Homo sapiens: one gene and its partners. The protein of the gene in region 3 purifies or fractionates together with the protein of the main gene of each other region. This does not show direct contact. Each region holds a gene or a part of one and is shown on either strand. Other genes may lie near its edges. The genes, in order: GCH1, PRCP, OSBPL9 and ACOT8.

Region 1 (5,705 bases), on a different chromosome or scaffold from region 3:
GCTACCATGCCCTGCTAATTTTGGTATTTTTAGTAGAGATGGGGTTTCACCATGTTGGCCAGGCTGGTCTGGAACTCCTGACCTCAAGTGATCTGCCCACCTCGGCCTCCCAAAGTGCTGAGATTACAGGCATGAGCCACCTCACCCAGCCGAGGCTCAGTTATTTCTAAGGGAAGAAAATGAATACATGTTCAATGGCTTTTCAGCAACAAAAGAAAGTTCTATTCAAACTAAGTTTATTCTAGAATTCTACTAGAGTTGAGCCAGATCAACTCACTTCTGGCATTTTCTTGTTACTTAAGGCTTTACTGCTTGATATTTGACTTCACTGGCACTGAAAGGTCATTCATTTAAAGGCAAGCATATAACAAACTTCATATATAAGATTAAAATGAGCAGTGAAGTTTTGCTAAGACATTCAGCTTTTATTCCTCTTCATTCTCTAAATATTCTTACTTCTTATAAGGAATAAGTAGTTGGATAAAATCTTAGTCTTCTTTTCTATTTAATAGACTCTTTATTCAAATTTTTTGCAAAATATTTGAAAGCAACATACACTTGGTTCTTTGGCTTCATGTTCCATTTTATTCTTAAATTTTAATCCTATTAGTCTAAGGACAAATCCCCATGCTAATAATCAACTCCTTTGTATTGTTTCATAAAAGCTTAATTATTTGAGATCTTTTCCTTTCACTTGGAAAGGAAATAACTAAGATTATTTCCTTCTACCACCAGGTTGCCATTTATTGTATGATCTCACTGAATCACTCAAGAGTCCATTTCCCATAAAGTGTTAATCATGATCAACAGTTGGTTTTTCAGAGAAGGCTGTTACATTAAGACCAAGGCCTAATGTGATCTGCCAAGCTTTTTTACACTATGAAACTATCCATTACACCTTTCACATATGGACAGTCTGTTATAGGCATCAGCAGTGCTGGAATTTCTATATGGGCAAGGTATAGGGTTAGCAATCTTGCTGACAGGGAGGCCCAGGGGACTGGGCCTACAGCTATGTTTGCACAGTAAGCATGCTGATTTTACTTAGACTGTATATTATAAAACCATAAGAATAACCAATTTTAGTAAAGATACTTTTACTCACAGTTGACATGAAATTGGTTTAATACATCATTAGTTGAGGGTAAGTTACTGGGAAGGGAGTCGTTAATAAAAATTATAGTAAGATTAATTACTCCCAATCACTACCAACACACTTTTTCTCAGCAACTTTTCAGCACTGCCACCAGGGATGGATCACACGCAAGCAGCCAGAATGTTTCTGGATTTGTGCTAAGAGCCTTATTCCAGTGAAGCAATTACAGCTATGATATAATATTCTTTCATGGTGCCAAGCAGCCCTATCTAATAGCAAAATAGCTGAGCAGGAATGAGGTCAGAAACTGGGGAAGTTAAATTTGTCTCTTCTACCCACTTTCTTATTGATCCCCAGAGGAAATGAATGAGAAAGTGGAAGTGAAAACAAAGTAACAGGAACAACTTTAGAGGGCAGTTGTCAGATTGCTGGAGTAGTTTTTTTTTTACAGATTCCAACACAGAATTGAGAAATATCAGGACCACCATTTCACAACTGTGTTAAATCCCAGGGCCTGCATAAAGAAACAGGAACACATCAGAGCCACAGCACAGTCAACTGGTCACAGAGACTCATTTATTCCTCTTCTTTTATTTTTATTTTTTTGAGATAGGGTCTTACTCCATCGCCCAGGCTGGAGTGCAATGGCACAATCTCGGCTCACTGCAAGCTCTGCCTCCCGGGTTCAAGTAATTCTCCTGCCTCAGCCTCCTGATTAGCTGGGATTACAGGTGTGCGCCACCACGCCCAGCTAATCTTTGTATTTTTAGTAGAGATGGGGTTTCACCATGTTGGTGAGGCTGGTCTCAAACTCCTGACCTCAAGTGATCCGCCCGCCTCAGCCTCCCAAAGTGCTGGGATTACAAGTGTGAAAGACGGCACCCGGCCGAGACTCATTTATTTCAATTATGATATGGTCACTATAACCTCAAGTTATTCAAACTTAGCTTGATTATTTTTGAAAAAAAAAAAGAGTAGGAACACTTTACCCGACCCCTTCATCTTGTTCTTAACTTTCTCTCTCTCTCCACACACACACACACCTCCCAGTATTTCCTCCATCACTCAAAATTCACTAACTTTATACGAAGAAACAACAAGGATATTTAAGGGCAATAAAATATTGGTGGCTGGGGCCTACCAGAGATATCTGAACACAAACCCCCATGTTGACTTCCAGTTAAACACAGATGAACGTGTATGTACATCACCTCTCCTAAAACCCAAATAAAAAAGGCAGTAAGGGAATTTTTTAAGGCATGAACCCACAGGATAAACAACAGAAAAGAAGATTGTAGCAGGAAAGAGAAATGAGAGCGAGGAGCGTGAACACTGTATCAGAATAAAGCTGTGCAAAGCCAAGGCAGGCAGTCTTGTGTTTGCAGAAACAAAGAACCTAGACATGAACGGACTGGCCTGCAGGACCCCTGAGATATGCCTGGAGGCATCCAGTGCAGAGCAAGGCAGGGTTGAGGCTGGGGATCCCACAGGGAAGTTTCATTACAAGTCTGAAAGCAGTGTTGTATGAAAGCAAAGAAGGTGAGCACTCCCCTTGACAAGGATAGAAGAGTCCTCAGGCCTGACAACAAGTTCGACAGCAGAGCACTGCAGCTAGACCCCTGCCCAGCTTCTTCCCCAACCCCTCACTGTTAGCTAAACCCCCCTTAAAGGATGGGGCTGGACTGAAGGTAAGCTCAGGACCTCTCCAGTCAGAGAAGGCTCTGCAGAGAAAGAGGTGGGCTGAGACTTCCAGGATGTATGTATCTATGGAAGAAAGGGTGGGAAGTGGAAGAGGAAGCAGGCAGTAGGGGACGAGAAGGAAGGGGCATCTGTGTTTCAGACCCTCCAAGTCTTTAAGTTGCAATATGACTTCCAAGTTAGATCCATACAGGTAAAGAGAGAAAGCCTGATGAGATAGATTCTCAGCAGATGAGGGCAGGTCCTATAAACCTGTATTCTTGTTCACTGCACAGTCACACTTACCTCGCAAGTTTGCTGAGGCCAAGGACTTGCTTGTTAGGAAGATAACCAATATGGACCTTCAGAGAAGAGACGGAAATCATTAGCTGAGTGAAAATACAGTGCCTTCTTTGTGACAAAATAAGGAAATATAGAAAGAATATAGTACACTTTTATGTAATTTATCACGACAATGTATTACCTTGAAAACATCTGGAACTGTTAAGACTTAGAAAATGAAACATTTATATATGTATTTTTAAAATTACATAAATGCAGTAAAAGCAAAATATATAAGTATGAGTCTATTAATCAAATAACAAACTTGTACAGTTGTCCGTTGGTAAATGCGGGAGATTGCTTCCAGGACCCCTGTGTATACCCAAATCCTGCATACTCAAGTCCCGCAGTCGGCCCTGCAGAACCTGCATATATGAAAAGTTGCCCCTCCATCTATACAGGTTTTGTATCCTGCAAATACTGTAGAATTTTTGATCAGTGTTTGCTTGAAAAAGAGCCATGTCTAAGTGGACCCATGCAGTTCAAATTCATGTTGTTCAAGAGTCAATTGCATGGCCCTGACACTTACCTGTGAAGTTGAACTCTTGACACAAATCTGAAAGTTTCTTCTTTATGGAGGAGAAACATTCTCAAGGAAAGGCAAATGATCTCATAGCAACACTAAAATGTATACAGGAAAGCCTCCTTTAAATGGCAAAAACTGTAAGCATAAGTATTGCCATTCCACACATCACAGCAGCCTTAAGATCCCACCTCACAGCCTTAAGATCCCACCGCAAAGCCCTGCAGCACAGAAGGTCTCCACACCCTTTTGTGCTTGGCTTCCTGGTTTCTAAGCTGCTAGAGAGTGCACCATCTTCCTTTTTTTTTTTTTTTTTTTTGAGATGGAGTCTCACTCTGTCGCCCAGGCTGGAGTACAGTGGCCCAGTCTTGGCTCACTGCAAGCTCCGCCTCCAAGGTTCAAGCAATTCCCCTGCCTTAGCCTCCTGAGTAGCCGGGACTACAGGCGCCTGCCACCACACCCAGCTAATTTTTGTATTTTTAGTAGAGATGGTGTTTCACCGTGTTAGCCAGGATGGTTTCGATCTCCTGACCTTGTGATCTGCCCGCCTCGGCCTCCCAAAGAGTTGGGATTACAGGCGTGAGCCACCACGCCCGGCCCCATCTTCCTAACTGGAGAAAAAGGGCACTGCTACCACCATGGCTTGGCAAGAACCTGCACCCTAAGAACTAAGTTTTAAAGGACCCAATATACAGCCAGGCCATTTCTGTTATCTTAAATGGCACCAATTAATATCAAATATAAAAGTTACTCTTTTGGGGCCAAATACTACATACGAAAAACATTAGTTCTCTGAAAAGATTAATAGAGTAAATGGTCACTTGTAGGCAATTAATTAACCGAATATAAAATTAGAGACTCAACGGCATCATGGTTTGCTAACACTGTTTTCATTGTTCACTTACTATTTACATAATTGATCTAGTAGTACTTAGTGATTTTTTCCCCCATCCATTGGCACTATGCTTTAGGAATTTGAGAAGTCCACCTCATTGCCTTCCTGGTTGGCAGGAGGAAAAAGTAAAATAGCACCTGAACATTGAGGATTTCAAAGAAAAATTAGAGAGTTAAAACTTTCCCATGAACCAAGGTCTTCTATGCTGTCTGAAATTTTTACATTTCCATGCAGACACGGAATTTGTTCATTGTTTATACTATTTTTGGTCTTAAGATCCTAGGTAATTTAAATGTCCATTTCACAAAATCACTAGATAGGCCAGGAGTGGTGGCTCACACCTGTAATTCCAACATTTTGGGTGGATTGCCTGAGGTCAGGAGTTCAAGACCAGCCTGGCCAACATGGTGAGACCCCATCTCTACTAAAAATACAAAAATTAGCCAGGCGTGGTGGCGGGTGCCTGTAATCCCAGCTATTCGAGAGGCTGAAGCAGAAGAATTGCTTGAACCTGGGAGGCGGAGGTTGCAGTGAGCCGAGATCGCACCACTGCACTCCAGCCTAGGCAACAAGAGCGAAACTGTCTCAAAAAAAAAAAAAAAATCACTAAATAATATATTTTTAAAACAAAGGTAGCAAAAACACAAACACTGAGGAAGTAATAGCAGAAAGTAACAGGATAAAATGGTGACAGGCTGAGTACAGAATCAGTGCCTTGGATCTGGCTGCAGCCAAGCCACTAACTCTCTCTATCCTCTTGAACAAGTCACAGGCTTTCTGTGCCTAATTTGCTCACCAATAGATTCCCTTTCAAAGATTCCTTCATTATCAATTGCAGGATTTCCAGATACGATATGGCTTCTGATGTGATGTATCTGGGTTTTCTGATTGCTTTCTCTTCTTTTCTTTTTAGAGACAAGGTCTTGTTCTGTCACCCAGGTTGGGGTACAGTGGCATGATCATAGTTCACTGTAACCTGAAACTCCTGAGCTCAAGCAATCTTCCTGCCTCAGACTCCCAAAAAGTAGCTAGGACTACAGGTATGCACCCACCATGCCCAATTAATTTTAAAAAAAAATTTATTTTGTGGTAGAGACAGTCTCACTTGCTGGTCTTGAACTATTGACCTGAAGCTATCCTCCCACCTTGACTTCCCAAGTCGCTGGGATTAC
Region 2 (5,705 bases), on a different chromosome or scaffold from region 3:
CAAGAGCCTGAGGCAGGAGGTTCACCTGAGCCCGGGAGTTTGAGGCCAAGTCTGCAGTGGGCTATGATCACAACACTGCACTCCAGCCTGGGTGACAGAGCAAGACTCTGTCTCAAAAAAAAAACCAACAAAATAAAAAAGAGGAAGAAGAAGAAGGAGAAGGAGGAGGGATGGAGGAAGGAGGGGGAGGAAGAGAAAGAAAGAAGAGGAAGAGGAAGCGAGAAGAAGGAGAAGGATGACAGCTCCTGGAGGAGGCAGAGGCAGAAGCAGCAGAGGAAGCTGCAGAAGCAGCAGCAGAAGACGCAGCAGCAGGAGCAGCAGAAGCAGAAGAAAAAAAACAGCTCCTGGAGGAGGCAGTGTTAGAGGTAGGGGTTAAAAAATGGAATGGGATTGATAAAAGAGGTAAGGCCCATGGGAGAGAGAGATTCCAGGCAAAGGGAACAATGTGGATTAACACATAGACAGGAAAGGAATGGGCATATGTGGTGAATAGATAAGCAAAATGGAAAGGCAGTTAGGGCCATAGATTGAAAGGCCTTAAATGCTACAGGATTTTGTTCTTAATAAAGCAAACAATAAAGAGTCGCAGTTTCTGAAAAGAACAGTGATTCAACTGGAGGAGAGGTGATTTATGTGACAACCCATGGGAGCTGTACCGGAGGGGGAAACTGCAGGAAGCTAGGAAGACCAACTGGTTTACTCTTCTAGTAGTCAGGGGAGGCGGTAATAGGGGCTGCAAAAAGGGGCTGTAATCACTCCCTTGCATGCAATTCTCACTACCCAGGCCTCTCTCACCTTTTTGTTCTCACTTGGCAAAAGTGCAATTCACCAACTCCACAGCCATACCCAAGAAACTGAATGTAGCTAGAGAAACATACAGCCACATCAAATGGCCTTACTAACTTACATAACAGTTACATCAAATGGCCTTACAAAGTTAGAAAAGCTGCCCTGCAATCAAACCATATGCCCCTAGTGCATTTACTTTCCTTCTCTGCTAGAGGAGCATTTCTGTTCTCTCCCTTTCTCACTCTCAGCTGATGACCTTCCATCTTATTTTGCTGGGAAAAGGGAAGCGTTCTGAGAAACAGCACACAAGTTCTCACTACCATACCACCTTCTTACCTTCATCTGTGCCTATATGATGTGCCTAACCCAGTTTGACTATGGTCAAACTGTTCATGCTCTTGTTTTTTCATTAGATCCCATTTCCTCTTGCCTAAGATATCCCACTACCAATTCTATTTCTTTCTTGTTCCGTCACTTTCTCACTCTCTCGGCTCATTTCCCTTAGCATACATTCGATTATTTCTCCCATCTTAAAAATGGGAACCCTCTCCCCCTCCATCTACCACACCATATTTCTGCTCCCCTTCACAGCAAAATTCCCCAAAAGATTACCACACTCGTGGTCTCAATTCAGCTTCTCCCATTCTCTCTTGCATCCACTCCAATGAGGCTTTCGCCTCCACTCACCCTCTGAGGAAATTGCTGTCAAGGTCACCATAACCTCCACATTGCTAAATCAAGTGGCCAATTCCCAGTCATTTATTTAGGCACTACTGGTTACCTTCTTACGGAAATGCTTTTTTCATTAAGTAATCAGGGTATCACACCCTCCTGGTTTTCCTCCTCCAACTGTTCCTTCTCAGTCTCCTTAACTGGTTCCCCATTTCCCTGACTTCTAAATATGCAGTGTTGAGAAGATCATCTTTAAAAGAAAAGATCATCTTCACTAACTCCTTTGTTGCTCTCTTCCAATCTCATGGTTTTACATACCATCTGTATACTAACAGCTTCAAATTTGTATTACTTGCCCCACCTTTCTTCTAAATTCTTGACACAATACCATTTCTGAAACCAAGTTCCTCTTCTCCTTCCTTCCCCAAACCTACTCCTTCTGCAGCTTTCCCCTTCTTGGTAAATGACAACTCCTACCTTCTAACTGCTCAGGCCAAAAACCTTGGAGTCATCTTCAATTCTTTATCTCACAACCTACATCTAATTCATCAACTATACCTCTCAGCTACACCTTCAAAAATATCCAGAATCTGAGCACTTCTCAGCCTCCACCACTACCACACTAATCCAAGCCACCATCGTCTCTAATCTGAAATTTTGCAACAACCTGGTCTTTCTGTTTACCCCCTTTCCCCTACATAGTCTATTCTCAACACAATAGCCAAAGTGTTTCTTAAGATTTATTAATCAGAGTCATTCTTCTACCCCTAAAGCTCCAAAGGCTTCTCATCTCATTCTGATTTACGGCCAAATTCCTTACAATGGCCCAGATGTCCCCGCATTATCTGGCTCCCTGAACCTCCTTTCTGTCCTCCTCTAGTACTCTCTCCCTGGGGCATGTCCCTCCAGACATACCATCCTCCCTACAGTTCCTCCCACTGAGCACACACCTACCTCAGGGTTTTTGCACTTGACCTTCCCTGCCTAGACATTCCCTGTGCCTAGAATGTTTTTCCCCATGCCTAGAATGCTCTTTCCCCAGTGCCTCGAATATAGTAGGCACCTAATAAAAAATTAGGTAAATGAATTTAGACAGACATTGAACATTCATTTTCCATTTTGCTTTTTTCATTTATTATTAACGCATAAACATTTTATCACATTGTCAGAATACTTTAAGACCATAATTTTTTGGGCTAACAATATTCCATTTTATAGACATACCACAAGTTATTTACAATTTGGGACTGAAAAACCAGGATATTTACAAATGGGATATTTTGGATGTTTCTTCCTTTGATATTTGTGAACTTCACTTCACTTTTAGAAGTGAATCTACTAGTGAGAATATGTACCTCACAGGATTGTTGTAAAGCTGAATATGAACTAATAAGTGGACACAGAGACATCAGTTTTGTTACTACTGCTTAGATTACAGAGACATCATGATGTCAATGAAAGATCATAGATCTTGAAAGAAACAGATAAAAAACATGACTCACAATATTGTCCTTTAATAGCTTAAGACACTTAACCTCTATGAGTTTCAATTAAACCATCTATTTCAAAAAGCGATTATATTAATAATAATTAAAAAGAGATGTAAAAGAGTTTAGCATAATATTGAGCTCAGAGTAGATAATCAATAAATGTTCATTCATTCACTTCTCATAAACAATACCTAGGGTTTTTAAAATTGTGAACCAGAAAGAAAAAAATATTTTTATAAATTATCCCATTACATACATATTGTTAAATAGATAATAAAAATTTTCAGTACAGAATTATTCTTTTTAATTAACAATTACTCAACACTTACCAAAGCACACTTAAGATTACAAAAATCTATATATCAATTTTGTTTCTTTTATTATAATAAAGCTAGGCAAAACAATTATTTTTAATTACTGAATGATGGTATCAATAAATAAGTTCCTTTTTATCATGTGCTTTAATGTACACACACAACAGGTCAGTAAACTATTATAATGATGACAAGTTAAGCAAGAAAACATTTTAAAAATTCGCCTCACTTCAGGGCTATTTCTTGAAGCAATCTGTGTGTTGGAGTCAGATGAATGCCAAGACATTACAAAATTTTCAGTGTTTTCCATGTTGTTTCGATATAAGTTTGAGTATATGCAGTTGGAATGGTCAACAAGTACAATTTGAACTCCTTCAGGGTATAGTCATCTATGCCTGGCCAGGACCTAGCCCAGTGCCTGACATACAAAAGACACCAGATCAGCACTGAGTAGGTAGGTAGGTGGGTGGGTAAGTGACTGATTGAGTATGGTAGTCATTAGTGCTGTCTGTCTAGGCACTACAAAGCCAATACTTTTTGTCTCCCTACCCTGTGATTGGGTACAGTCATTTAACCAGTTCTAGCCAAGGAATTGTGAGAAGAAGTGACATAAGTAATTTCCATTTTGGAGCATTCATATGAGATCTTCCATGTTCTTTTTCCACTGCTAAGTGTTCATGAAAGCATATGCTAAAAAGGAAACCCCGATCAGCCACTTAGTCTCTGAGTGAAAGCAGGAGCACAGCCCCCTGCTCATTCAATTGGAAGTTTATGACAGTAAGGGTCATACATTTTGTTAGGTTAAGTGACCGAAATTCATAAATTTTACTATAGCAGCAAAACCTAACTTATCCTGGATAATACAAGCAAGCTAATGGCATTCATTTCAGCACTAGAAATTAATCAGAGTTTAATTTCAGAAAAACAAAATGGTACAGATAAGTAGTATAGCTCAGTATAATAATTTAACCTCTCTATATGATAGTTCTCTTGCTCGCCGAGTTTGATGGCTCCTGCCTGTAATCCTAGCACTTTGGGAGACCAAGGTAAGAGAATTGCTTGAGGACAAGAGTTCAAGACCAGCCTGGGCAACATAACGAGATCCCATCTCTACAAAAAGATTAAAAAATTAGCCAGGCATTGTGGTGTACACCTGTAGTCCCAGCTACCCGGGATGCTGAGGTGGGAGGATCACTTGAGCCCATAGGTTCAAGGCTCTAGTGAGCTATGATCACATGGCTTCACTCCAGCCTGAGTGACAGAGCAAGATCCTGTCTAAAAATAAACAAACAAAAAGGATAGTTCTCTTGCCTACAAAATGGAATAATAGCATCTACCTCATAGAACAGTAATAGGGATTAATTAAGTGAATGTCTATTAAGTACTTAGGATAATATTTACGGTATTTGAAGCTTTCAATAAATGGTAGTAAATTACTATCATTAATAATGCATTAGACACATTTACACTACATATGTAATTTTACTTTCATCTCTTACTCCTTATTCATTTTAATTTATGGTCAATTTTTTCAATTCATAATATCTTTATTAAGAAGTACCATATCCTGTCAGAACCATATAAAAAAATAAAAAGAAGTACCATCCAAGGCACTAGAAATGAAGACAAATAAGATCTACCATCAAGGTATTCTCCTTACCTATGATTCTCCTTTCTTCTGCAATAGACCCACAACCAAGCAAACTTTAAAATCATAAACACAATGTTTTATTATATTATAATATAAATCAACTATGCAATATTATAAATATTGTACCAATTGAAGAGGTGATTACTTTTTAATTTAAAAACACTTTATATGTTATGGGTCTGTGTCTTATTCAAAGTCAAGATAGTAAAGTTGTTTAGGTCCAATTCATCAAAGGCAATTAATGTTATGGCAAAAAACAAAACTTGTACCCACATTCCCACTGTTCCTAACGCAGTGCCCTATAAACAGGAGGCACTCAGTGAACAAAATTATAGGTAAATCAGAGATCAGCAGATCCAATCCATTTATCTTACAAATTAGTACAATGAGATCTAGAGGGTTAGGCAACTTGCCCAAAAGTATGATGTGATTTAGTGGCAGGGCTGATCCTAGAACCCAAACTTTGAAAATGTTTTAAAAGTCTAAATTCTCTAAAGCACAAAGTTCCTGCAGTATGCTGACAGAGGAATATAAACAAGTCAGTGAAAAACCTAAAGTTAATTTTTATTGAAATTAGATTTTAGCATTAGCTAGTAAGAAATTTAAAACTCAGCTATCAGAAAGACAGTGTTAGATTTACTATTGTTATCAAGAGAAGAAGGTACTTCCAAAAACCTAAAAGGGTAAATTCATTACCATATTTCCCCCCAACACTTTATCAACACTTAAAATAGCATAGAAAGAAAAATAGAAATAGTTTCATATGCTTCTTTTTATGTACAGAATCTT
Region 3 (5,705 bases):
ATTGCTTGAACCCAGGAGGCCGAGATTGCACCATTGCACTCCAGCCTGGGCAACAAGAGCAAAACTCCGTCTCAAAAAAGGCTGGGCGCGGTGGCTCATGCCTGTAATCCCAGCACTTTGGGAGGCCGAGGCGGGCTGATCATGAGGTCAGGAGATCGAGACCATCCTGGCTAACACGGTGAAACCCCGTCTCTACTAAAAATACAAAAAACTAGCCAGGCGTGGTGGCGGGCGCCTGTAGTCCCAGCTACTCGGGAGGCTGAGGCAGGAAAATGGCGTGAACCCGGGAGGCGGAGCTTGCAGTGAGCCAAGATGGCGCCACTGCACTCCAGCCTGGGCGACAAAGACTGTGTCTCAAAAAAAAAAAAAAAAAAAAAAAAAAAGACGGTCTTTAATTCTCTTTTAAATAAAATAATGACTGAACCCTTCAAAAATTAATAATAACCTTTCATTTTCGAATTTTCTTCCAAATGCTTATTTTCTTTTAACCCCATTATTATAAAAACTTTTTTTCCAAAATTAAATTTCTATTGGCAAACTGCTAACAATGGTTTCTCAATAGTTTATGTTTTAACATTCAAAATGAAAAAAAGAAACCAATATGCTAAACTAAGCCCTTTCTGCTACACTGGCCTTCTTTAGTTGTAGATTTAAACCTCCCTTCCACGTCTTAACTATATATATTCACCTAGACCACATAGGACTGGCTGAAGGTAATTGGCTTGCAAATTTACATTTAATTATTTCCAAATTTGTACTGTGTTAAAAAGCAAAAACCCTAGCTATAGTAACAGTATAGTAACAGTCCCCTGAGAAAGCAGAATTAGAAGTAATTCCCAACAAAAACTAAGCTATTAATACATCTACAACAAACACAAGTAAAATGAAAGTAAATCAGTAATTCTACTTCTTTTTTTTTTTTTTTTAAGACAGAGTCTCACTCTTGTCACCCAGGCTGGAGTACAGCAGCCCAATCTCGGCTCACTGCAACCTACACCTCCTGTGTTCAAGAGATTCTCCCATCTTAGCCTCCCGAGTAGCTAGGACGACAGGCGTGTGCCACCACACTCAGCTAATTTTTGTATTTTTTTAGAGACAGGGTTTTACCATGTTGCCCAAGCTGGTCTCAAACTCCTGGGCTCAACTGATCCTCCCACCTCAGCCTCCCAGATTGCTGAGATTAGGGGCATAAGCCACCACACCTGGCTCCCTAAACTGTTTTTGTTGTTGTTGTTTGTTTGGAAACAGAGTCTTGCTCTGTTGCCCAGGCTAGAGTGCAGTGGTGTGATCTCAGCTCACTGCAACCTCCGCCTCCCAGGTTCAAGTGATTCTCCTGCCTCAGCCTCCTGAGTAGCTGGAATTTATAGGCATGTACCACCATGCCTGGCTAATTTTTTTTTTTTTTTGGTATTTTTAGTAGAGATGGTTTCACCATGTTGGTCAGGCTGGTCTCGAACTCCTGACCTCATGATCTGCCAGCCTCAGCCTCCCAAAGTGCTGGGATTACAGGCGTGAGCCACCACACTTGGCCTCCCTAAACGTTTTTAAATAAAATTAGTGCCTTAAAGCCAGTGCAGAGAGACAGATTTGAGGTGGACTTCCATTTCCCTGTAAGTAGACTTGCAATAAAAAGCTTTTCTTTCCTCAAAAACCTGGGACTTAGTAATGGCTTCTAGCACATTGGGCAGCAAGCCCCTTTTGCTCCATAACACTGTAGGAAATAAATTTCTGTTGTTTATAAGCTACCTAGATTACTGTATTTTGTTATGGCAGCTTAAAGGGACTAAGATACCATACCACGTATTTCATTAGATTATAAATGTCTGCCTATTCCCCCAAAAGTTCCCTGTGGGCAGGGCCTGGATCTTTGTAACCTTGATATCAACCTAGCACAGTGCCTGGCTGATAGGTGTTGAATATTTCCACTCTAATTAAAAAAAGAAAAAAGTAATAGAAACCTCTTATTTGTATAATGCTTCATAGCTTATTCACTCTCATTGGACCCTCTCCTAATGTTGGTACTGTAGAAACGGCCAGGGTTCAACTAATAACGCTGGCACATTACTATAGGTGATGCTATTTATTCCACTTGGATTAACTTAGGACTAAAATCAAAACTCTCACAGAACTGGCTTTGCTCAATAAGCCAACCAAAAACAAGTTGTCCATACAACTATTATACATCAATAAAAAAACTTCTATTAAAAAGGTTGCCCTTTTAATTTTCCCAAATAATAACTGATGAGGCAAGTCTGTCATTAACACTAGTCTCAAAATCAAATTAGATTTTTAAAAATCAGGAGAATCATTTAAATACATATTCTGTTCATCTACTCACTCTATTAAGCGCTTTGGGGATGAGCCACTTTGATGGAATTCATCAGCATCATAAAATTCATCTTCACTGCTGGAGTAAGAGAACTCTGGGACTGTATTTGGAGACAAGTTCACGTGGCTTGGAGAAGTGAGACTGCTACTCGGTGGTGAATGGCCACTGCCTAGGAAGTTAAAAGGGTTTTAGAGAAAAATATTGGTGAAAGAGAAGAAACTAGGGAGATGGAGTCAAAGCAGACTTTTCTAAAATCAAAAAAGAGTTTGGTTAAGTTTGTAAAAGTCGCTACAGTATTTATAAAGAAAATCAACATTTAAACTCCACACAGAAAATGGCAAATCATGATATAAAATGAGGACACAGCCTTTTAAATAAATGAAACAAAAAGCTATGTCCTCATTCTATAATTAAAGATTATCATTAATACTAGGAAGGGGGCCCTTTTGATTATATGAGTTGTGGAGTTGCAAGTCCAACAACAGATATGATTACAATGGGATGCCGGGACTCTTATTTTACACTGCAGATCCAGATACCTAAAAATGCAGCAGTGAGCCACTGGGAATGCAAAATGAAAAGAATATTAAGACCACATAAACATTAAAATATTGCAGGATATCACATTCCTATCATTCAATATTTTTTGGCAATCACATGGAAAATACACACACCATCCAAATTCCTCTCCTCTTTTCCACCTAAGTCAGGGGCTCAGAGGTGGAGATAAAAATAGAGGACTACGATGAGAAGAATGCAGAAAATGAAAAGATTCAGAAGAACATTTTTCTATTCCTAAATAGTCTAACTAAAGAAATGGAAATTAATGAAGACCCAGACAAAGAAGCCTGCCATCTAATCTCTGAGATGATCATCTGGTACCTTATCTACTAGTAAAGCAAGAACAAAAAAGTATCAAACCAATCGACAAATGGAGTATTAAGATCAATTTAACTTACTGAGCATTTAAGGGCTGTCAGTCAGGCAATTTATACTAATCTACAGATGTCTGGTGAAGACTAAAGTTTATTAAGACACTGATGGCAATCTGAAAGCCAGGGCCACAGTTCTGGAAGAAATTGAAGACAGCAATAAAAATGAATCCAGGCTAGGCACAATGGCTCATGCCTGTAATTCCAGCACTTTGGGAGGACCAGTTGGGAGGACTGCTTGAGGCCAGGAGTTCAAGACCAGCCTGTGCAACAAAGTGAGAGCCCCATCTCTTAAAAAAATAGATAAATAAATTAGCTGGGCATGGTGGCATGTGCCTGTGGTCTCAGCTACACGACAGGCTGGGGCAGGATCACTTAATCTGAGGAGGTCGAGGCTGCAGTGAGTTGTGTTTGTGCCATTGCATTACAGCCTGGGTAAACAGAGTGAGACCTTGTCTCAAAAAAAAAAAAAAAAGAATCCAGAGTCACTTACGGATTTTTTGCCCATTCCTATATGTATGGTTCAATAGTTGTGAAAAAAAGCACATCAGTTTGCCACATTTAGTCATCATATTCACAAAGGTATTTTAAAAAGATAACACAAAAAGTTTAACCCCTAAAAGGTAATGCTTATTTTGGAAATTCCAAAGGTAGCTCACCTTATTAGTAAATAACTTCATATTCTTTTTATTACCCAACAGAAAAAGTAAGAGAGAAAAGCAGCTTTTTCTTATTGGAATAAAAAAAAAATTGATCAAGAATTGCAAATGATTAAGTAGCATGCAAATATTCCAGGTGATCACACAAGTGAAACTGTATCTAAGAAGAAAAGTTTGAGTGGGAACTGCAAACAAAAGATCTGAGATTTACTTAGGAGAGCAAACATTTTATCTTATTCCTTTATTTCTTTTTTGTATTAACAAGAGAAGTAAGGGAAAGAAAAGTGGAGAAAATGAAGTTAGGATGAAAAATCAAATAAGATATAAATCACAGGAATTTAATTTTAAATTTTTCTTTAAATCTACTCTAAAGTGTTAGATTTTTGAAATACCTTCAACTGAAATAGTTTTCAGAAGATTATCTTCTGGAAGTAATTTTTACAAAAATTAATATACATAAGAAGAGCTTCTCACTTTCTCAAAGTCTGTTGCTAGTTTTACGTATTTCCAAACAGAAAAATTTTGGAATTTTGGTTGTTTCAAAATTCCAACATAAAAATACGAACAACAACAAACAGGTACTATTTTTTAAATGAAGAAGAGGTGACACAGCTCAGGAAATACAGAAGTCAGCCAAAATATTTCAATTTCATTATTCAAATTGCTTATCAGCCTTTTCCCAAGAGCTTCAAGTAAGAGAGCTATTTTTTTTCTTTCAAAATTCAAAGGCAACTGCCCATGCTGTTAAATAGTAAAGATCAAAGTAATAGCATCAGTACTTTTACTAATTCGAATTTTTTAAATCACAGGGTAATTATTCATCATTACACAGGAAAAATCCTACCCGGGAAAAAAATCTGAGGATGAACAAAAGGGGCTGATCTCCCACTTCTTCAAGAGTGGTTTTGGTTTTGGTTTCCAGGTTTAACAGTGTGAAAAGTGCTAGATGCTTCCTTGAGTTTGGTTCTACAAGTTATTCAACATACATTTAATTAATTTTAAAACAAGATAAATCTAGTATCTAACACTGATAGTATCCCTGTAAAACAGAGAAAAAATAAAGACCCTAAGCCTAAACGAATTAAGAAAATGCAGGCTGGGCGCGGTGGCTCACACCTGTAATCCCAGCACTTTGGGAGGTGGAGGTGGACAGATCACCTGAGGTCAGAAGCTCGAGACCAGCCTGGCCAACATAGTGAAATGCCGTCTCTACTAAAAATACAAAAATTTGTGGGGCGTGGTGGCGCACATCTTTAATCCCAGCTACTCAGGAGGCTGAGGCAGGAGAATCACCTCAACCCAGGAAGTGGAGGGTGCAGTGAGTCGAGACAGTGCCACTGGACTCCAGCCTGGGCAACAGAGTGAGACTCCATCTCAAAAACAAAAAACAAAACGTTTAAACAAACAAAAAGAAAATGCAAATTAAAATGAAGTATCTTTTTTCTAACTATAAAACTGGCAAAAAGGTGAAAGACTGATAAATGTTTTCTAAAAAAATATACATATGCCAAAGGTGCTGTACAAGGATATCACTGAAGTATTGCTTCCATCAGTGGAAAAAACAAGCAATACCTGCCCAGGCAGCTGTAAAAAGAATGCTGTAGACCTAATTTTACAAACATGGAAAGTGCTCTAAGTGTTCTTTGTTAAAGGAAAAACGCAAGTCACAGAAACACATAACCTAAGTTAGGTTTAAACAAAAACAATAAAAATACACGACATAAGTGTATATGCACATACATGTATGCAAATTACTGGGGGGAGAGTAAAGAGGACTTGCAGTTT
Region 4 (5,291 bases), on a different chromosome or scaffold from region 3:
CCGAAGCTGCCAGTACTGTACCAAGTGGAGCGGACACGAACAGGGTCGAGCTTCTCGGTGCGCTCTGTGAAGGCCGTGCAACATGGGAAGCCCATCTTCATCTGCCAGGCCTCCTTCCAGCAGGCCCAGCCCAGCCCCATGCAGCACCAGTTCTCCATGCCCACTGTGCCACCACCAGAAGAGCTGCTTGACTGTGAGACCCTCATTGACCAGTATTTAAGGTGAGAGACCTGGAGGCTCCATGGCAGACTTTTCAAAATGCAGCTGCTATCTGTTTGTGGGTCATAGAATCCTTTAGTGGGTCTTGACCAGCATTTTTAAAATACAGATTAGAAAAGAAGATACTGGAGTGAATAATATGTATGTATTAAGGGCAAGAATCCTTTTGTGAAACTTGAGGTTTAGTCATGTGTGTTTCTGGTGTGTGTCTGTACTGGGTCATGGTATAAAATGAAGGGCTTGGCCGGGTGCAGTGGCGCATACCTATAATCCCAGCACTTTGGGAAGCCAAGGCAGGAGGATTGCTTGAGACCAGGAGTTGGATACTAGCCTCGCCAACATAGCAAGACTCCATCTCTAATTTAAAAATAAGGCTGGGGCTGGGTGTGGGGGCTCATACCTATAATAACACTTTGGGAAGCCCAAGTGGGAGGATCACCTGAGCCCAGGAGTTCAAGACCAGCCTGGGCAACATGGTGAAACCCTGTCTCTATAAAAAATACAAAAATTAGCCGGGTGTCGGGGCATGTGTCTGTAGTCCCAGCTACTTGGGAGGCTGAGGCGGGGGGATCACTTGAGCCTGGGAGGTGGAGGCTGCAGTGAGCCGAGATCGTGTTACTGTGCTCCAGCCTGGGCAACAAGAGCAAGACTCTGTCTGAAAAAAGAAAAAAAGAATATATATTTTGTTGTTGTTTATATATATACATGTTTGTTTGTTTTTGAGATGGAGTCTTGCTCTTGTTGCCCAGGCTGGAGTGCAGTGACACCATCTCGGCTCACTGCAGCCTCTGACTCCCAGACTCAAGTGATCCTCCCGCCTCAGCCTCCCAAGTAGCTGGGATTACAGGCACCTGCTACCATGCCCAGCTAATTTTGTATTTTTAGTAGAGATGGCGTTTCACCATGCTATCCAGGCTGGTCTCAAACTCTTGATCTCAGGTGATCCACCCACCTTGACCTCCTAAAGTGCTGGGATTATAGGCATGAGCCACCATACCTGGGAAAAAAAACCATATATATATTTTATATATATATGTATATAGAAATACTTCCGTAACCACTTGTTAAGTACCACCTCCCCAGCCCCCTAAGTGATTCCCTCTCTCCCCCAGGCCCCTGGTCCAGCAACTTAGGACTTAATGCACACCAGGAGTGAGTGTCCTCTGGAGAGCTGCAGCGCTATGGCCTATGTTTGGTCACTGCCTTTGCATTAGTGCATGTTTTTGTTTGTTTGTTTGTTTTGAGACAGAGTCTCGCCCTGTTGCCTAGGCTGGAGTGCAGTGGCATGATCTCGGCTCACTGCAACCTCTGCCTCCCAGGTTCAAGCAATTCCCGTGCCTCAGCCTCCCAAGCAGCTGTGATTACAGGCACATGCCACCATGCCTGGCTAATTTTTGTATTTTTTTAGTAGAGACCAGGTTTCGCTATGTTGACCAGGCTGGTCTTGAACTCCTGACCTCAAGTGATCGACCTGCCTTGGTCTCTCAAAGTGCTGGGATTACAGGCGTGAGCCACCGTGCCCGGCCACATGTTTTATGTATATAAAACATATGTACAAAAATACAAATATGTATTTTCCCCTAACCATTAGACCACCAGGGAGCATGTTAGATATTTTGAATACCTGGTAAAATATATTTATTTGGATCACACCTAATCAAGTTTGAAAAATGCTGGTACAGGGGAAAGAGCTCTGGGTCCAGACAAAGGATAGACACATGGATTCTGTCCAGGGCTGTGCCTCTGTGAATGCTCACCTGCTGTGGGACAGTGCCCAACTCCCCAGGGCCCTAGTTTCTTCTTCTAAAAAATGGGAATGCTCATTTCTGCCCTGCCTACTTCTTAGCTGTATCATAAGGAGAGAATGTCTCTATCTCGTGTTAGATACTGGGGAGGCAGCAGAGTATGACGGGATGGATGTGGGTTTGGGAACCTGAAAGGCCTGGATTCAATTCTAGATTTTGTCCCTACTAGCTGTGTGAGTTTGGGCAAGTTGCTTTCCCACTCTGAGCCAGTACTCACCATTATAAAATGGTGCTAATCATATTCCTACCTCATAAGGCTGCTGTGAGGATTAAATAAGAGAGAAAAGGCACTTAGCGTGCTAGTACTAACTAGCACAATGGCAGTGAATTGTAGTTATATCACTATTAACAGAAAAAACACAGGGCCTGGTGTGTGGTTGCAGTTCGACAAATGTTTGCTGAAATGAAAGGAAGACATTGTTAAAGGACCTTGAATTTAGATCTGTGCTGTTAATAAGGTAGTCTCTAGCCACTCGTGGCTATATTACATTAATTAAAATTAAATAGGTCCGGGCGCAGTGGTTCATGCCTGTAATCCCAGTACTTTGGGAGGCCAAGGCGGGTGGCTCACCCAAGGTCAGGAGTTTGAGACCAGCCTGGCCAACATGGTGAAACCTCATCTCTATTAAAAATACACACACAAAAAAATTAGCCAGGCGTGGTGGCCCGTGCCTGTAATCCCAGCTACTCAGGAGGCTGAGGCAGGAGAGTCGCTTGGACCCAGGGGGCAGAGGTTGCAGTAAGCAAGATTGAGTCACTGCACTCCTGACTGGGCAACAGAGCGAGATTCCGTCTTAAAAAAAAAAAAACAAAAAAAAACCAAAGTCAGTAGAATGAACAATTCTGTTCCTCAGTTGCATTAGCCACATTTCAGGTGCTCCATAGTCACATGTGGCTAGTGGCTACCATAGTGTGCTGTGCAGATAGGCATTCCATCATCATAGGAGGTTCTGTCCAACAGCACTCCAGAGGATAGGGGTGAAAATGGCAGGACCTGTGCAGAGCACTATGGGTGGTTGTCACTGTATTGAAGGGAGTTCCTTGGAATGGGCTCCTCCCCCTGGGGGGATGCAATGTTCCCTACTGTGTAGGGTTTGGTAACTCAGGCCAAGTCAGGCAGCCTGTTTCTTGAGTGTTTAAAATAATGAAGTGGCTGGGCACAGCAGCTCACTCCTGTAATCCCAGCACTTTGGGAGGCTGAAGTAGGAGGATCACTTAAGGCCAGGATTTTGAGACCAGCCTGGGCAACATAAAGAGACCCCATCTCTACAAAAAAAAGTAAAAATAATCCCAGCATTTTGGGAGGCTGAGGCGGGCGGATCATGAGGTCAGGAATTCGAGACCACCCTGGCCAACACAGTGAAACCCCATCTCTACTAAACATACAAAAATTAGCTGGGCATGGTGGCAGGCGCCTGTAATCCCAGCTACTCGGGAGGCTGAGGCAGGAGAATCACTTGAACCTGGGAGGCGGAGGTTGCAGTCAGCTGAGATTGCACCACCGCACTCAAGCCTGGGTGACAGAGCTAGACTCCGTCTCAAAATAAAGAAATAATAAAAATGTTAGCCAGGCACAGTGGCGTACACCTCTAGTCCCAGCTACTCGGGAGGCCAAGGCAAGAGGATGGCTTGAGCCTGGGAGTTGGAGACTGCAGTGAGCTGATTGCGCCACTGTACTCCAGCCTGGGTGAGAAGACGACCTTGTCTCTAAAAAAATAGAAAATAATCATACTGTGGACCCAGATTGCCTGAGTCCAAATCCTGTCTCTCCAATTTTTAAGCAAGCTACCTGGACTCTGTGCTTATTTCACTGATGAAATGGGGGTGATAATAGTACCTATCTCACAGGGTTGTTGTGAGGAATACTATTGTATGTACAATGCTTAGAACAGTGCATATTACAGGGTATGCCTTATTACTATGATGTGTTGGTTAGATATTCATGATCTTGTCTTCACAGTGTTGGTTATGAGGTAGGTTACTATCATTATCCACATTTTGCAGATGGGAAAATAGACTCAGATTACTAATTAGCACGAGACCACATGGCTCGTAAGTGGCCAAGAAGGGATTCAAACGCTGCACTATCCTGCCTGCCACAGGGGAGGGGAGCTTTGGGGATATCAGGGGTCCCTGTGGAAGAATGAGGGGAGTCAGAAGAGGCAATGCAGATGTGACTCCCTCTCTTCCTGGGTCTCACCCCGACCCTCTTCCCTTTACTTTCAGGGACCCTAACCTCCAAAAGAGGTACCCATTGGCGCTCAACCGAATTGCTGCTCAGGAGGTCCCCATTGAGATCAAGCCAGTAAACCCATCCCCCCTGAGCCAGCTGCAGAGAATGGAGCCCAAACAGATGTTCTGGGTGCGAGCCCGGGGCTATATTGGTAAGAGTACCCCATGGATGGGAGGAAACCACTCTCCAAGGGGTCTACCACTCATTTGCTGTGTGGCCTTGGGCACATGAGTTCCCTTCTCTGGGCCTGTTTCCTTATCTGCATGATGGGGAAGTTGGCTTAGCTTCTCACCTGGGCCCTCTCAGCCCTTTGCATGGGGAGAAGGTGGAGATGACTATAATCCCGACACAAGGCCTTTCTGAGGAAGGCAAAAGGCACCTCGCTGGGGTTGTTGTCCAGCTTTGCTGCTAACTATAAAGTATCTTTGTGCAAATTGGAAGAAGACACCCCTTTTGGGGCCTAGAGTGGGAGACTTGGGTGGTGAAGACTGAATTTCAGTCCCTGCTCACCCCTGCCCTCCCCAAGTCGCCATCTCACTTCTCCCCTATCACACACACACACTGTAGGCCAAGCGCTCTTGTGCAGCAACCAGTCTGCACACCCATGCACGGGAGTCCCTTTTCCCCCTACCTCCGTGCAGGTCCTGAGCTGGAAAGCCCAGGAGCCCAGGGCTGATGGGGACCTGTTGCAGGCGAGGGCGACATGAAGATGCACTGCTGCGTGGCCGCCTATATCTCCGACTATGCCTTCTTGGGCACTGCACTGCTGCCTCACCAGTGGCAGCACAAGGTGCACTTCATGGTCTCACTGGACCATTCCATGTGGTTCCACGCCCCCTTCCGAGCTGACCACTGGATGCTCTATGAATGCGAGAGCCCCTGGGCCGGTGAGTGTGGGGCCGTGTGGGACAAGGGCACTGACCTTGAGTGGCAGGAGCCTGCTTTCTTGGGTGATGCTGATTTCCCGACTTCCTGTGTGGCGCTGCACAGGTCACTTCCTTTCCTTCCCTCCCAGGCTTTGGCATCTTCATCTT

Evidence for each region.
Region 1: the proteins of OSBPL9 (region 3) and GCH1 purify together in Homo sapiens (affinity purification with mass spectrometry; one large-scale study listed by BioGRID and IntAct). This does not show direct contact.
Region 2: the proteins of OSBPL9 (region 3) and PRCP fractionate together in Homo sapiens (co-fractionation; one large-scale study listed by BioGRID). This does not show direct contact.
Region 4: the proteins of OSBPL9 (region 3) and ACOT8 purify together in Homo sapiens (co-immunoprecipitation; one large-scale study listed by IntAct). This does not show direct contact.

What each region holds. Positions count from the first base shown.
Region 1 is NC_000014.9:54,856,602-54,862,306, forward strand, and holds part of GCH1 (GTP cyclohydrolase 1), read right to left. Parts: intron 3,136-5,705; coding exon 3,080-3,135; intron 167-3,079; coding exon of another isoform or gene 157-166; exon of another isoform or gene 139-156; intron 1-138. UniProt on the Homo sapiens protein: Positively regulates nitric oxide synthesis in umbilical vein endothelial cells (HUVECs). May be involved in dopamine synthesis. May modify pain sensitivity and persistence.
Region 2 is NC_000011.10:82,889,250-82,894,954, forward strand, and holds part of PRCP (lysosomal Pro-X carboxypeptidase isoform 1 preproprotein), read right to left. Parts: intron 1-5,705. UniProt on the Homo sapiens protein: Cleaves C-terminal amino acids linked to proline in peptides such as angiotensin II, III and des-Arg9-bradykinin. This cleavage occurs at acidic pH, but enzymatic activity is retained with some substrates at neutral pH.
Region 3 is NC_000001.11:51,762,615-51,768,319, reverse strand, and holds part of OSBPL9 (oxysterol-binding protein-related protein 9), read right to left. Parts: intron 2,499-5,705; coding exon 2,339-2,498; intron 1-2,338. UniProt on the Homo sapiens protein: Interacts with OSBPL11 to function as lipid transfer proteins.
Region 4 is NC_000020.11:45,843,380-45,848,670, reverse strand, and holds part of ACOT8 (acyl-coenzyme A thioesterase 8), read left to right. Parts: coding exon 1-221; intron 222-4,250; coding exon 4,251-4,408; intron 4,409-4,898; coding exon of another isoform or gene 4,899-4,933; exon of another isoform or gene 4,934-4,949; coding exon 4,950-5,144; intron 5,145-5,291. UniProt on the Homo sapiens protein: Catalyzes the hydrolysis of acyl-CoAs into free fatty acids and coenzyme A (CoASH), regulating their respective intracellular levels. Displays no strong substrate specificity with respect to the carboxylic acid moiety of Acyl-CoAs.